Regions from separate parts of the Homo sapiens genome. Here region 2 is linked to region 1. Evidence: fine-mapped expression QTL. Tissue or cell type: whole blood. Region 1 holds a variant in brackets; the other region holds the start of a gene. All regions are shown on one strand. Distances are between the middles of the regions.

Evidence for each region. PIP is the estimated chance that this variant, and not a neighbour inherited with it, causes the effect.
Region 2: it holds the start of DOCK2, and the variant in region 1 is fine-mapped to the expression of DOCK2 in whole blood (TOPMed, PIP above 0.99). The same link has a PIP of 0.9 or more in blood mononuclear cells, lung and tibial nerve.

Annotation. Positions count from the first base shown.
Region 1 is chr5:170,053,185-170,061,290 of GRCh38, reverse strand. DOCK2 (dedicator of cytokinesis 2) reads right to left here. Exons shown (of 52, transcript NM_004946.3): 42 at 5,905-5,986; 43 at 4,523-4,607; 44 at 3,625-3,711. Among named protein-coding and RNA genes, the nearest start is that of MIR378E, 29 kb to the right of the region's middle. The variant G/A (reference allele first, on the strand shown) is at 4,589.
Region 2 is chr5:169,632,299-169,640,404 of GRCh38, reverse strand. DOCK2 (dedicator of cytokinesis 2) reads right to left here and starts at 3,130. Exons shown (of 52, transcript NM_004946.3): 1 at 3,036-3,130. The coding sequence starts at 3,078. RefSeq lists an enhancer at 2,333-2,432 and silencers at 2,693-2,752, 2,783-3,262.

The sequences.
Region 1 (8,106 bases):
TGCTATCAACGGGCTGTTGGGACTTAATCTAGCCCTCAAATCTCTGGTCTTTTCCCTAAGCTGAGCCTCAGTTTCTTTATCGACATAGTAACTCTTGCCAGGCTTGCTGTGAAGAGAAAATGAATTATCAGGGGAGGGTGCTTTGGAAAAAAATGTAAAAGTGTGTGTGGATGGGTGAGGGAACATAAGATGAAAGAGAAAGTGATCTCAATCCCTGGCAATTAGGTGGCATTTCATATTTTTCTTTTTTTAATTTTTTTTTAGATGGAGTCTTGCTCTGTTGCCCGGGCTGGAGTGCAATGGCATGATATCGGCTCACTGCAACCTCCGCCTCCCGGGTTCAAGTGATTCTCCTGCCTCAGCCTTCTGAGTAGCTGGGATTACAGGTGCATGCCACCATGCCCAGCTAATTTTTGTATTTTTAGTAGAGACGGGGTTTCACCATGTTGGTCAGGCTGGTCTTGAACTCCTAACCTTGTGATCCGCCCACCCCAGCCTCCCAAAGTGTTGGGATTACAGGCATGAGCCACCACGCCCACCCCAGCATTTCATATTTTTCAAAGCCATTTTACCAATATTGCCTTCTTAAGTCTACCCAGGAATCCTATGAGCTGCACAGGACAGGTGCTCTCTCATGACCTCTGAGTTCTGCCACAAATTGCTTTGGCAGTTCAAGTCCCATTGCTAGGCCTCAGTTTTCTCATATACAAAATAATGCAGGTAGACAAGAACCAGGAAGAATCAGGACAAAAAACTTGGAGAACTGCAAGCCAAACCAGGCTGGCGGAGGTCTGTCACTTAGCTAGCACATTGATTCTAGCCTTTAAAAATGTAATTCAACAGAGATGGAGGAGGGGGCTGTTGCTACTGCACTTTGCCACAGCCCTTACTAGGCTATGAAGGTATTCCAGTTTATAGCTTTAGGACTAAAAGACACCTAAGGTCCCTTTAAGCTCCCTAAAGTTCCATCATTTTGCAATTCCTATTTACAGATGATTAAAACTAAGACCCAGAGATATACAGTCCTTATCTAACATACATAGCTCATTAGTGACCACGTTGAATTTGGATCTCTGACCCCTAGATCAGGGCTCCTTGTAAAGTCTCCATTTCTCAGGGCCAAGAACAAGAACAAAATAAAACCCCAATAGGCAGAACTTATACTTGAAGCTCATCAGAAAATGCCTGTCTATATAAACATTACTGTAGTCATGATAATTTATGGAGGAAATAACCAAGAACAAGATACAAATTCATATAACACAAAAACAATCTTTGGAAATGAAGTCACTTAGAAGAGCATTCAACTTTTGCATCTGAGACACCCTGAAATTCCTGGTAACTCATCTGAGAGAGGCCATTAAAGATAAATTCACTCTGGCCAACTTTTTGAAGGTTTCCCCAATGCCATCTATGAGAAGCCATCGGGATGAAAGAAACAAGCCAAAAATCTTGACTATTTCTTTCCCAACTTCAAAACGCTGAGTTTATAAAATAAGGTAACCGGTTTAGACATTACGGGTGTCTGCATATTGATTGACTGATTAATTTATGTAAGTATTCTTTAGTTAGCATCAGTTGTGGGCCAGGGACTATTCTTAGCACTTGGAGGTATGGCAGAAAATAAAATAGACAAAATATCTGTCTTCTTGGAATTTATATTCTAGTGGAGCTTATGGTCTACTGTTATATTTAATATTCTCTTAATATTAAAAATAAACAAGAAAATTATGTAGGCTATTAGGAGATAAGTGCTTTGGGCTGACACACAGTAGCTGAGGGAATGGGAAGTACAGGGATGGGCTCTCTCAGTTTGCTACAGTTTGGCAGGAATGACTACAGAAGAGGCGCCTTGCTGAGCACCACCAGGTGACAGGGCTCAGTCAGGGCTAATGGGCAGAGGCTACAGATTGACAGAAAGTTTCTGATTCCTTACCTCCTAAATAGGGCTCATAATAGTATGTACCTCACTGGGGTCTATGAGAATTAAATGAGATATAGCTATAAACCTTTGACACAGCACCTGGGGCACTTGTTGAAACTTATGTGCCATGAAGCAAGGGCACAGACACTTCCTTCCTTTTGGGGGTACTACTTGCTGGGGTGGGCTGGGGTGGGCTCTTCTTTTTCTTAAGGAAAAAAAGATAAAGAGTCCAAGCCAGGTGCCTGACAGGGGAGGTTAAAGTCATACCCTATCTCTTTTACTAACCTTGAACAATGCACTAATTAACTCTGCATCTCAGTTCCCACATCTGTAAAATGGGAAGAATAATAATATCTACCTCACAGGGTTGCTGAGGGGTTGAAATGAGATCATGCATATGAACAGTTGAGCCCATACTCAAAACAATGTTTTTTGCTATCACCATCATTGTTATACTTTTCCAAGGTCTAGGTCATGCCTATAAAAAGGAGGCTGAAGGGCTACTGAGCTGCTGGGTTCGCTGAAAAGAGAGGGGCATTAAGGGTAGAAGTGAAACGGTCTCAATGCTATCGTCTGATACAATAGCTTGAAAACGCAAGTCAGACCACGTCCCTCCTCTGCTCATGGCTCTGTGTCACTCAGTGGGAAAGTCAAAGTCCTTATGGTGGTCTACAAGGTCCTACATGATCTGGTATCAGATGACTGTTACTCACCCTCACTTGTTCTGATCTGGACACAAGCATACTCTGGGCCCAGGGCTTTTCACTTGCTGTCTCCTCTGCTGGAATGTCTCTCTCTTCAATGTCAGCATGGACCCCTTCCTCATTTCCTCCAGGCCTCTCCTCAACAGCCAGTATAGAGGGAAGCATTCTCTGACTACCCTACTTAAAATAGCAATCCCTCATATATCACCTTTCTGCTTTAATTTTTTCCATCACAGTTATCACCTGTCATATATTTACTTTGACTTTTTAGTCCGTCTTTCCCACTAGAATGGAAGCTCCATTGCAGAATCTCTAGGTCTTACAACAGTGCCTAACATGTTAGGTACACATTAAGTATTTTCTGAATGAATGAATAAATAAATAAATAAGACATCCTAAATATGTCCATTTACAAGGTTTCCTCACAACCACACTGACCATTCCTCTGTATCTTGGGGACTGCAAGATCTTTAGCTGTCTGAGGACGTGGAGACCCTAAGCTGTGCTGAGAAGCAAAATAGGTGTTATCTGCACAAGGGAGATCAAACATTTGGATTCTAGCCAAATGATCTCTCCCTTCTGAGCCTCAGTTTTTCCAACTATAAAATGGATTCATATTGGGATACTGCACAGGTGCCCCCAAGGGGGTGCTGTGATGAGAGGAGTATGAGGGGGAGATGGAAATGATTAATGATTGTGTTCCAGGCCCTCTGCTACACCCCACCCACCCAACAGAAGCTCCCCATTCATCAGCTTTATTACTGGAGGCCATGGAAAGTTTCATTTGCAGGGAACAAAAAGGTTATCTGATGCTTAAAAAAAAAAAAAATCTGAAAGGCACTATTCTGAATGCTGCCTGCATGGGAATTCTGGGACTCACACAGCAGCTTCAAAGAAAAACATGTCTCCTTTTTAAAGTCAAAGGGGCCTTTGGAGACTGGCTGTGCCCTGCCCATCGGAGGAAGGGTGGCCCTGCCACGAATGTCCCAGACTCACCTGCGACATGTGCACCACCTCAAACCAGCGCAGGATCCCCGGCAGCTTGTATGCAGTCACGAAGGAGGTTCTCTCAATCCACATGGACTGTCCGTGGGCAGAGGGGTGGCAAGGGCAGGAAAGCAACAAACACATTTATGAAACCTGGGTATCGGAGAAGCTTGGCAGAAACCCAGCCAGGTCCCCGGGCCTCCCATCTACCCGAAAGCAGAATAAATATTGCAAGACCCAGAAACACGCTCTCACCTTACCCTTAAGAATTCTTTCCCAACATTAAGTGTAAGCTCTCCCTGGACTTAGGCCAAGTAAGTACTAACCTGGGTTTATTAGCAGTCTGAATTTTTAGGCAATATTGAATGTGTCCATTTGTTTTCTCGGGGAAGGGTTCCCAGTGTTCATTAGACTCTCAAAGAGGCAGTGGCTCCAAAAATATTAAGAATTACTGTCCAGGCCAAAGAGCTGAGACTTGGAGACACCTCCTTAATCCAGTCTTGTTTGAATCCTAGCTGGACACACACAGAGGAGACTAGCACTCAGGGGACAGTGATGACTACATTGCTGTGGCTTCTTACTGGTGTTTGCTGGAAGGTTTGATTTTATCAACACCCCTTCTTAGCCTGAGGGTTTCTACGTGCTGGCAATGCCTGAATGCCCTGTGGTTGAAAAAGTGCCTCTGACATGAGGCCTGGGTTCTGTATTAAGGGGAAAAAGGCTCAAGAAATAAGGACACAGGCCCTAATGGAAGAGATTGGGGAACGGACGTCATGGTATCCATGGAGGTTGGCTTTATTTTCTCTGGCTTTCTATCAAGTTCCTTCCCATTCTGAGGCTGGCCGATGCATGCTCTGGTTCCTCCAGGTGGCTCCAGGGAATGATCAAGGGTAGGGAAGATACTCACAGCAAACTCATTCTCTGGGTCTACGGTCCCCCTGCGCACGGGCCGGGAGTAGTGGAACCTTTGCAC[G/A]TAGTTGGATTTGTAGAAGCTGAAAGACAGGAAGAGGCTGAGGCTCCTGGTAGCCATCCCCGGCTGCTGACACCCGATCTGACCCTGCACTGTCCAGGGAGGTTCATTACAGTAAACTTCAGGCCTGGCAGAGTCCCTTGTGGTGCATTTAAAATCAAGGTCTGTGTTCTGGGCTCCGTAAGAGTGACTTTTGCACAGGCTTTCCTGACAAGGCAATTTAGAAGGTAGACTGGTCTTGTGCCCCTTTGAGAACATAGTACCCCTAGAGTATCCAGGCAATTGGAATTCTAACATTGATGGCCTAGGTCATGATTTCCTGTGATCTGCAACAAAGGAGCTGAGGTCTGAGCCTAATTTCCCAGAGGTGTCCTCAAAGGATTTCTTTAGGTGTCCCAGCCAACCCCCTAAATCAGTCTCCCTGAATCGTTGGTGAGATTCTAACTTCAGGGCCAGCAGAACACCGTGCTAGCTGCACAGTTATTGTCCCCTGCTCATGGGTGCCTGTCTGAGAAGGTGAGAAGGTGAGGGGAGGTTAAGACCCAAGCTGAGCTCCACCTGCTCTGCTGTGGCACTTCGTGAGGCTGCTGGGAGGGGCTGCCTCTCCCTGAAGGGTCCTTCATCTTGCAAAGCAGATCCTGTTTCTGACTGTCCCATCCAGAGGGGAGGACCTACTCTAAGACACTCAAGTGCTCCATTACAACCTGGGCATGGGGTAGGGGGAATGAGCTGGGCAGCTGGGAGGCATACAGCCTTGGGTCCCACAGAGGCCCCACCTTGTGGCCTCATCAGTGACTTTGCAATCTGATCTAGAACAGGTGGACATCAGCCTTCACGGCACTTCCTCTACTGTTCCTTTATCAGAGCCTGAACACACCATTGTCAATGTACAACCTTCACAAATGCTGAGGAGATGTCCCTCTGGGAGCATGTGCTCAGCATGGACAAGGCCCCCTGTCTCCACCCTGCCTATCACTTGCCCAGCCACACTCTGTCTGTGGACTCCCTGGGGCCACTCTGAGATCAACCTGAGCAACAAATAGGCTGACTGCATCCAGTTGAGCAAATGCTCGATGCTTGCTGAGGATTTGCTGAGCCATAACCCTGGCTCTCCCATCCTTCCTGGCTTCAGCCTTGTCAGGGGCAGAGCCCAGCTAATTGGAGGGTGATTCTTTGCCCAAGAGGAAAAGGGGGGAAAAACTGGCTAAGATAGAGAAGGAACTAGAAAGACACTGGGGTCTGTTCTGCCACCAGCTCAGTTTGGTGGCCCCAATGGGTTCTCTTCCCCATCCTTCTTCCCTGTGGACAACGAGTCTTACTTTATAATCTGGTCAGGCACTGGCTTATTCTTGAACCTGGGATGTTCATCCAAGACAGGCTGGACAGTGAAGCACTGGATATCTGGAATCCCTGTAGTTAAGGACTTATATCTGTTGGCTGCGGGGACAGTTTTAAGTATAGCTGGTCCTTGCTGAGACCTTCCAGGCCAGCCTTTATGGGGCCACATTTTTACTGAATGATGAACCTCAGGTTGCTGGCTGCCCACTAGGCACTAATGACTAGTTAGTCACTGAGGTCCTTATCAGTGCTGTCACCCTGCAACCTTATGCCAGGGCTCAGCCCCTACAAACAGAGTTGTCTAGTGGTGTTTAATCATCATCATTGCTATATTATCATTAATAATAATACTATTGAATGAATTTATAGCTCTCAAATCAATTGCAGAGTACATCTTCCCATGATCTCATTTGATCTCCTCAATTCCACTGAGTTGCCTTATTAACCTAAATTGTCCCCTTCGAGGCCAGAGAAGCCAGGCCACTTGTTGAAGGTCACACAACTTGTAAGAACAGATCCGAGTTTGTATTTAGGTCTTCTAACTCTAAGCTCAGAATTCTTTCACTCTGGACTCACTACTCAAAGGCGGCCCTTTGACCAGTAGTGTCAGCATTACCCGTAAGTTTGTTAGAAGTGGAGACTCTGGACTATCTGAGAACCAACTGAGTCCGGATCTGTAAAAGATCCTTGGGTGAAACATATGCATGCTAAAATTTGTGAAGCACTGCTATAGAATATGCAAATAAATGTCATTTTGCACCCCAACTCTGAAAATTTGAAAGCAACTGCCTATGGCAGGATGGTAAGGAGCTGTGTTCAGACAGTGGAAAAGAGTCCCATGGTGGATTAGTGATGCCTGCAACAGGCACAGATATTGGAAAAGCACTATGTGGGTCAGACCCTTGTCATGCCTCTTCTAGGTCTGTCTTTAGTCCTTTTAAGCTGACAATATGGCAAACTGAATGAAAAAAGTCAGCGGTCACTGGTCCCACTCCTGACCCCTCTTCCCTTTCCCTACCTCCCATTTCTTCTTTACCCACGTCTTTTATTTAGGTATTCAAGGTCTTTCCTCCCTCTATTCTACCCAATGACCACCATGACTCCAAAAAATCTTTTCCTGGGCCTGACATGTCTGCCAACTAAGGAATCAAGAACTCCTCTGGCTAGCATTCAAAGCTAGGCCAGTATGGCCTTCACCCATTTTTTCATCATTATCTGGATATCCAATGGATCCTACTACTTCCTTTCCTTGGAACATTTTCCCTTATCAGCATCCCTCTCTTGTGAACCCTTTGGACAGATGTCAAATACCACAGTCCATGAAAACAATTCACCCCCCAGTTAGGAGTTGTTTTCCTTCCTTTGGCTTTCCACAGCCTTCGTCTTTGCTTCTCTTAGGATCCACCCTCCAGCTCCTTGTAGGCTTCCTCATCCCCCCAGCCCACCTCACACCCTCCATCCTGCCCAGATTGTGAGCTTTTTCATGGCAGAGACTATGGTTCTTTCACACATAAGAAATGACCAAAACCTAGTTCCAAATTAAATTGAATTGCCTCTGTCTGATGAACTTACTCTATGCTAAGAAGTTAGGTGTTTCATTGATTTACTTCTGATGCCTGTTTCTGCCTTAAATAGATTTCTCTTCTTAAGAGATGGCAATGTTTAACACGAATGAATAAATCTCAGTGAAGGTATTTCTATGATTTTCAGGAAAACCATTTTCTTTCTCAAGCCATGTGGCCAACAGCCTGCTCTGGGAAGAAAATCACTCTGGATTAAGTCTAGGGCAGGGGTTGGCAAACTATGGCCCTGCGGTCAAATCTGGTTCACTGCCTGTTTTTGTAAGGCCCAGAGGCTAAGAAGAGTTTTCAATGGAGGGAAAAAGAGTATTTTGTAACGTGAAAATGATAGAAAGTTCAAATGTTAGTGTCCATAGAGTTTTATTGGAACACAGCAATACCCGCGCATTTTTGGGTTTTCAGTGGCTGCTCTCCCACTACAACAGCGGAGCTGAGTAGTTGTGACAGAGACTGCATGGGCCACAAAGACTCAAATACTGCCCATCTGATCCCTTCCAGAAAGTTTGCAGACCCCTGTTTTAGAGAAGGTTCTAGGTCATGTTTACTGATCTTAGCCACTGGTGTTGGCCCAAGAGGAGAATCCAAATCTGTCCTAGGGAAGCC
Region 2 (8,106 bases), 420 kb after region 1:
TTTTCCCTCCCCTACAAGAATAACTAGAGTCCCACACAAATCTGCCTGGCAGGCTCAGCTTCAGGGTAAACAAAACTCTTTTCTACCCTCACCCTTTATCTCAGGACTCCTGCCTTGAAGCCCTCTTTATAGTCCCAAAATACCATGCCAGAGACCACAGATTATTTGTCATGAATTTGTGTCCCCACCAAAATTCTTATGCTGAAGTCCCAGTCATCAGTGTCTCAGAAGGTACTCCTATTTGGAGATAAGTGCATATTCGGAGATAAAGGAATTATTAAGTTAAAATGAGTCCTTTAGGGTGGGATGCTAATCCAATATGACCGGTGTTCTCATGACAGGAGGAAGAGACAGCAAGGGTGTGCCTGCACAGAAAGCAATGAAGAGGCAGCAAGACAGCCATCTGCAAACCATGGAGATAGGCCATGAGACAAGCCAACCCTGGTGGTGCTTTGATCTTAGACTTCCAGCCTCGAGAACTGTGAGAAAATACATTTCTGTTGTTTAAGCCACCCAGTTGGTGGTATTTTGCTACAGCAGCCTGAGCAAACTAATATATCATCCTCAATATTCTTCCTCCTCTCCTTACTTATGAAGAGAACTCCTAATTTTTAGCTGGGTACATGGCTGCCTACATTACAGACTACATTTCCTAGCTTCCCTTGCAGCTATAGTCAGTCATGTGATTACATTTTTGCCAATAGGATGTAATGTAAGAAGAAATGTCAAGTGTGCCTTCAGGAAAATGTCTTTAAAGGGAAAAGCCATGACCTTCTTTTTCCCTGCATCCTTTTTGCTGGCTGGAAGGTGGACCTGATCACCGAAGCTTAAGCAGCCTATGTGGCTCAGGAGGCAGAAGTCACATGCCAAGGATACAGTGTGAGATATAGAATGAGCCACCTTACCACCTCTTCCCAGACCATTTCTGAGCTTTCCATGAGAGACAGAAATAAACTTGCAGCTTGGTTAGGCCACAATTTTGGAGGTTTTCTGTCACCCTTTGTCACACTTAACCCTAACTGATACTGTTAGTTTCTCTTTCTACCTCCTTCTTTTCTGCCCTTTCCTCTCTCCTGCAAGGAGAAAGCTCTCTTCACTGACAAGAGCCTCAGGCAGAGTGGATTAACCTAGTAAAGGTTAACAGGCAATGTTGATTATAAGTGACCTCCTGCTAGATTAACCAGGCAGTCAGCAGACAGGTAAAACTGTTACCCATTTTCCTTCTATTCTAAGTCCAATTCCCCACTCCTATCCTAATTAACTATTTAACTTCTTCCAGATGACACTGCTCAAAACCTCCAGTGCTCAGAGAAGGAAATCCAAACTTTGAAGGTTGGCACTCAAAGCCCTTCACAATCTAGCCATAATCTACCTCTGAAATTTTTTTAACACTAAAAGCAATACTAAAACCAAAACAGACTACTTATTGTTTGACCCACACACTTCAGGGATGCCAGTTCCCTGCCTTTACCCATGATGTTCCCCTTCTAGATGCTTTTCTGGTGCCATGCAAAGGGCCTAGGGTCTGAAGACAATTGAATTTAAGGCCCGCTCCATTGCTTCCAAGTGATGTAAACTTGGTTACTTCACCTGTAAGTTGGGAATAATACACTGCCTCACATGGGGGTTCTGAAGTCAGACAGAGATTGCATGACCTTTGGTCTTGCAAACCATGAAATACTACAGTCTCATAAGGCATGACTGTCCTGAATCTGGCATTAGGGTGCATCTTGGTGCTGGTGTCTCTTGGTTCTGAAGCTGCTAGGTAAGACCCTGGACCTGAATCACTAACTCTTATTGAGCCAGCACACTACTAAATGCTTTCCATGCATAACCCCATTCAATCCTCACAAGAGTCTCATGAGACCTGCATTATTATTACTTCCACTTTATAGACGAGGAAACAGACCCTGATTTGAACTCAGTTCTGACTTCCCAGTCCAAGCCTCTAGCCTTACACATAACTCCTCAAGGGCAGAAGCTGTATCCTTCCTTACTTTGTAACTGCCCCTTGAGATATGAATTATTATTTGTTCTCTGGATGGGGACCATTTATATCAAAATGACCCCACAGTGCCCGGTACCCAGTAATTGAGTGGATAACTGCTGATCTCTCCAGGGCAGTGTTTCCCAAACAGTGGCCTGGGGACCCCCTGCATCAAATCCCTCTGGGTGTTTGGGTCTTCCAATGCCTCACCTGCGAAATATTTATCTCTGAGATGGTGTCTGGTATCCGCCTGTGTAGGAAGCTCCAGAGTGACTTTTTATTTGATATTTAAGTTTAAAAACCACAGTGAGTCCATGGAGATTGCACCACGGATGACACTTAGAGTAGCAGCACCTGAGGCCTCCCTTCCCCCAGCCACCACTTCCGCCCCTGAGCTCCAGGCAGAGGCTTCTGGGAGTTTAGATGGCTGAGGCTGACGAAGCTAGCTTCTTGGTTACCCTAAGACCACCTGGCGGGAGCCTTTTTCCCCAGAGGCTCTGGGGGGCTGAGTAGAGAACCCCACCGTCCAGCCCCATTCCCCCAAGCTTGAGCTGCCCTCTGGATGCCCTGCCAAATCAGGAGTCATCTGACCCAGGAGGAACAGACAGGGGAAGCAGGCAAATGGGTGTCGCTTTGGAGGGGGTGGAAGTATGCATGGTGGGCAGGCCAAGGCTGAGCCAGGGGAGAGTGGAGCTCCCTCTACAAGGCCAAGTCTCCCACGCGGCGAGCTGGGGCACTCCTGGGGACGCCGAGTTTGGCGCGAAGAACTGAGTTGTCAAGCGCAGGTCTTGACCCTATCTCGGAAATGTCTAAGGTTCCCTCAGCAGGCGAGAGGGCGAGGGCTGTGCTTAGCCTGCGGGGTGGGGTCCCGCCGTCCTCTCCCCGAGCCTCGGCTTTCCCGCCCCGAGGCCCCGCCGCAGGCTGCGCCCTCTGACCTGCAGGCAGCGCGCCCTGCCCACCCCGCGCCGCCGGCCCCGCAGCATCCTCCTGCTCGCGGCTCTCCCGCCACCTGTCCCGCTCCCTGCCGCGCCCTGGGGCCCGCACCTACCCACGCCGTGCCGCTCCTTGTCAGCTTTGCGCCAGGGGGCCATGGCTGGGCCGGGGCCTCGCGTCCTCCCGTGGGGAAGCCGTCAGGGGGTGGCTGGGCGCCGCAGGGCCCCACTTCCTTCCTCTTTTCAAACTCCTCTCAGGGCCCGCCCTCTCCTCCCTCGCCGGGGCTCCCCGCTCCCTCCTCCCTCCCGTTGGGCAGGGGCACACTAGAAGGCTGGTGCCCCGTAGGCTAAGACACGCCACCCCACCCCACTTCACGCAAAACTTGGGGACCACTCCCACTTTGTCTCCTCCCCAGGCGAGGGAGCAGAGGCCAGTCCCCACCTGGGGCTCGCCAGACCACCACCGCAAGTGCAGAGAGTTTCCTGATTGCCGTGCCTAGGGACTGAACAAACCTCCTTAACTCCCCTCAGCATGAGCTTTGGTGTCAGATCTCGGTTCGAATCCAGACGGGGACAAATGACTTCATTTTTCTAAGCTTCAGTTTTCTCATCTGTGAAATGGGATACTAATACCTACTTCATATGATTATTGTGAGGGTTAGAGAGACAATGTACACAGCAGGTGACATGGAAGAGTAAATGTTTACCTGGAGGTGGATCCTTTACAGCCTTTTTTTTTTTTTTTTGTGAGACGGAGTTTCGAGTTTCTCTCTTGCTGCCCAGGCTGGAGTGCAACGACGCGATCGCGGCTCACCGCGACCTCCGCCTCCCGAGTTCAAGCGACTCTCCTGTCTCAGCCTTCCCAGTAGCTGGGATTACAGGCATGCACCAGCATGCCCGGCTAACTTTGCATTTTCAGTAGAAACGTGGTTTCTCCATGTTGGTCATGCTGGTCTCGAACTCCCCACCTCAGGTGATCCGCCAGCCTCAGCCTCCCAAAGTGCTGGGATTACAGGTGTGAGCCACCGTGCCTGGCCCATTTACAGCTTTTTATCGTTTTGGTGCTACAAACCCGTTGGAAAATCTGATGTAAGCTCTAGAAGCTCTACTCTGAAAATACGTAAATACACTATTTACCAACATCACTGCAAGGTGAAGGGTGCTGTCACAGCCAGCAACAGTGGGACCCAGGAAAAGAGCCCTAGAGTTAGGCTAATGGAGACATTTCCTCGAAAAATCTCATTTTTGCTCTGAGAACAGATTCTGTCCAAAAAAAAAAAAAAAAAGTCTGATCCACAGTGATAAGGCTGAATTTAAGTTTTGCTGAGTTTTCTTTCTTTATTCATGACTCTCACTACCCCTTTCTGCCTTACACTGGAGAGTCATTAAGATAGATTAGGCAATATCACAGCTGAACTGGAGCAACAAAAAATTATTGATTTTGTTTTATCTGCAGTTATTTTCTTTTCTGTTTTCTAGCAGCACAAATTAGGTAATAATGTCTTATACAGTCAGCAGTGGTATTAGGGTTCCACCAGATGACCAGAGTAGGAGATTTTATATATATGCATACATATATATACATACATACATATATGCATATATATATACACATACATACATACATATATGCATATATATACACATACATATATGCATATATATACACATACATATATGCATATATATATACACATACATATATGCATATATATATATATATATATACACATACATATATATGTATATGAGAGACAGAGAGAGATTGGGGATTGGCTAATGCGATTGTGGGGCTGTCAGGAAGAGCAGTTTGGAAACTCACAGGCAGATGTCCTCAGGAGGAATTTCTTCTTTTTCAAGGAACCTCAGTTCTATTCATAAGGTTTGTCAACTAATTGGATCACACCAACCAAATGTATTGAGGATAATCTCCCTTAATTAAATTCAATGTATGGTAGATGTTAATCACATCTACAAAGTACTTCACAGCAACCCCTGTGAAGATTGTGAAGATTGGTATTTGATTGAATAACTGGGCCATAGCCTTGCCAAGTTGACTCACAAAACTAGCTATCACAACAATGTTATAAATTGGGACTATACAATAGAGGATGCCAAACATTTTCTGTAAAGTCACAGATAGTATTTTAGTCTTTGCAGTCCAGAAAGCAAAATCAAGTATATATGTAGGATGCAGGTACTTATGTAAAGAAAGAAAAAAGGTTCTAAATTTTTTTTATTAATAAAATTCAAAATATCATGTGAATGAGTATTTTTTGTAATACTAGCTTAGTAAGGCAAAAAAAAATACATTTTGGGAATGATATCACATTTCACCTTATTGGAGTTCAAAGTTAATGTGCCTTATCGAAATTGATTCAAATATTCATATGTTAATGCTGATCTGACAGGATATTTACTTTCTATTTCTGAAAAAAATGTTTACCAAATGGGCAATGGTTAAAAGTCCAGAAAAGCTAATAAAATTAACCTTTGATACCACTGATTCAATAACATCACAGATTTAGATATTTTCCACAAAGTACCTGATGGTGAATATTACAATTAATAATCATAAGCTTTAAATATCTTATATTTTCACCCACCTTCTAAATTTGCTCCAAAAGCCTTCTTCTGCTCCACAGATATTTTTTTTACCATGAACACTAGCAACACATCTTAGCAGATTCCACTTCAGGTTGTGTTGAATTAGTGTTTTCTCATTTTCTTTTAAAGTAATCTTGCCTATAGTTCTTCTACACAGGCTCTTCATAGAAGCTATTTCTTCATTCACTTCGAACTCAGCATTGACTTCTCAAATAAACAACAACTGAGCTGTATTGGTAATATTTGTCAACAAGAACTAAGGAAAACCACTAGAAGTCATTTTAAAATTCACTATTGATGCTTCTGTCAATGTTCTCAACCAAGCAACCAGTGTCACCAAAAGGCTAAAAGTCTTAAACTAATTTATTTTCACTGGATATATTTCATCTGCTGCTATAATCAAACATGATTTAATGAACTTAACATCAATAAAATATTTTGCCTTGCTTGCATAACAAATAAGCCACTTGGAAACTTATTCTGGTTGTAGTCTCATTTTCACTTTTTATTATTTTAAAGAAATTGTGCTGTGATGAGATATTCTGTTTTAAATTTTCTAATTTTTCTTGTCATTGCTTTTGTGTAAGTTGGAAAAGATGTGATGAGTGCTTAATCTATTATATTGTTTGGAGTGTCAACATGTAATAAACACAATGCTTTCTCCTCTGCTTTGTTTGTTTTGTGCTGCTATAACAGAATGCTACAGACTGTGTAATTTATGATGAACAGAAATTTATTTGGCTCACACCTCTGGAGGCTGGGAAGTTAAATATCAAGGGGCCAACATCCAGCAAGGGCATTTTTTTGCTGTGCCATCCCGTGGTGGAAGGTGACAGGGCAAGAGCCAGAGAGCAAGAGAAGCCCAAACTCACTTTTATAACAAACCCACTCTCACAATAACTAACCACTCCCTCAATAACTAACCCACTCCTACGATAACAACATTAATCTATTTATGCAGAGCCCTCATGATCTACTAATTACATCTTATTAGGCCCCACCTTCCAACACTGTTGCTGTATTGGGGATTAAATTCCCAACTCATGAACTTTGGGGGGGGTCACATTTAAACCATAGTGCTATTTAATTTGGTAACAAACAATACACACTCCACTGTGCCTTAGAAGCATGACATTTGGAGCCCACTATTCTTTCTTTTCTTTTTGACATGGTGGCTATAGCACTGGTAATTTTTTTAAATGTTACCATAGAGAGAGATATGCACTTTAAATGCTGTGGAGTTGTAATCTCATCCTCGTGATTAGTGGGTTGCTGGAGAGCACTGTGTAGCATTGAAAACACCATACACAGTCCTTGTTGCAAATAGTCAACTCTGCCATTGTAGAATGAAAACAACTATAAATGATGCATAAATGAATGAGCATGGCTGTGTTCCCATAAAATGGAATTTTTACTTCCTACAGTTTTCATATAGCATGGAATGTTATCTTTATTTTGATATTTTTCAGCAGTTTAAAAATGTAAAAACTAGTCTTAGTTCATGGGCCATACAAAAACATGCAACAAGCCAGATTTGATCTGTGAACCACAGTTTGCTATCTTCTGCTATACACAGTTGTGTTGTCTTCATAAACTTGTAGCCAGTTGATCTAAAATACACTTTTTTTTTTTTTTTCGATTTAGGTTTAAGCTTCTGACATACAAACAGGCAACTTCACATTAACAGTGTGGTAAAGTATCTGATGGGAGGCCAAGAGTAGGTGGTGGTGCCAGAAAGCAAATAAGATTGAACTTGAGGAGCACTGAAGTTTTTTTTTCCCCATTCAACTTGTGACACAACCTATAATAGGAATCTCTTCCTTAAATAATGTTAAACAAACAAATTCAGCATATTAAAAGAGTTGAAAAACTGCTTTCAGTTGAAGGAGATGAAGTTTAGAAATTTTGACTGAGGGTTAATTAACTTCTTAATGGGGTGGCTTTTAGTGCAGAAATCTTTAAACTTCATATGGTTAGGAGATGGCTTTTATGTTTCTGAAATATGGGCTTTTCATTACAGTTAACAATCCTATGGCATCATAAAAATTTTTTGGCAAGAGAGATCAATAGTCAAACATAAAAATCTGACTAAAACCACTTAAAGAATTTACAATAATCTTGGTCACACAATTTTATTAAACACCATCTGTCAGTTACTTGACTATTAGGTAGTACACTCTTGATGACTATAACTTCACATACATTGTGAGGGATGACTGTGGGTAAAAGGACATCTCTAGCCAAGATTTCTGTTAAGTTCAGTCCTGTGTGTCCAACTACCTCCTAGACATCCCCTCCCAGCCCCATCAATGTCTCCATATTTCAAAACCAAGCTCATATCATAACTGTACCCTAGACTTGTCCCTCTTCTGACTGTTTCTACCCAATGTTAACAGATGAAGTGACCAGACTGTGCTTTAATCAGGTGCTAGAACCCCATCTCCATCACTTACCTAGCTTTGTGGTTTGCAGCAAATTCACTGAACACTTTCTGAGCCCCATTCATTGAATACTTACTGCCTTTCAATCCCTGATTTAAACAGTTGGCATGCATTATCTCGTGTCATCCTAAAAGCAGCC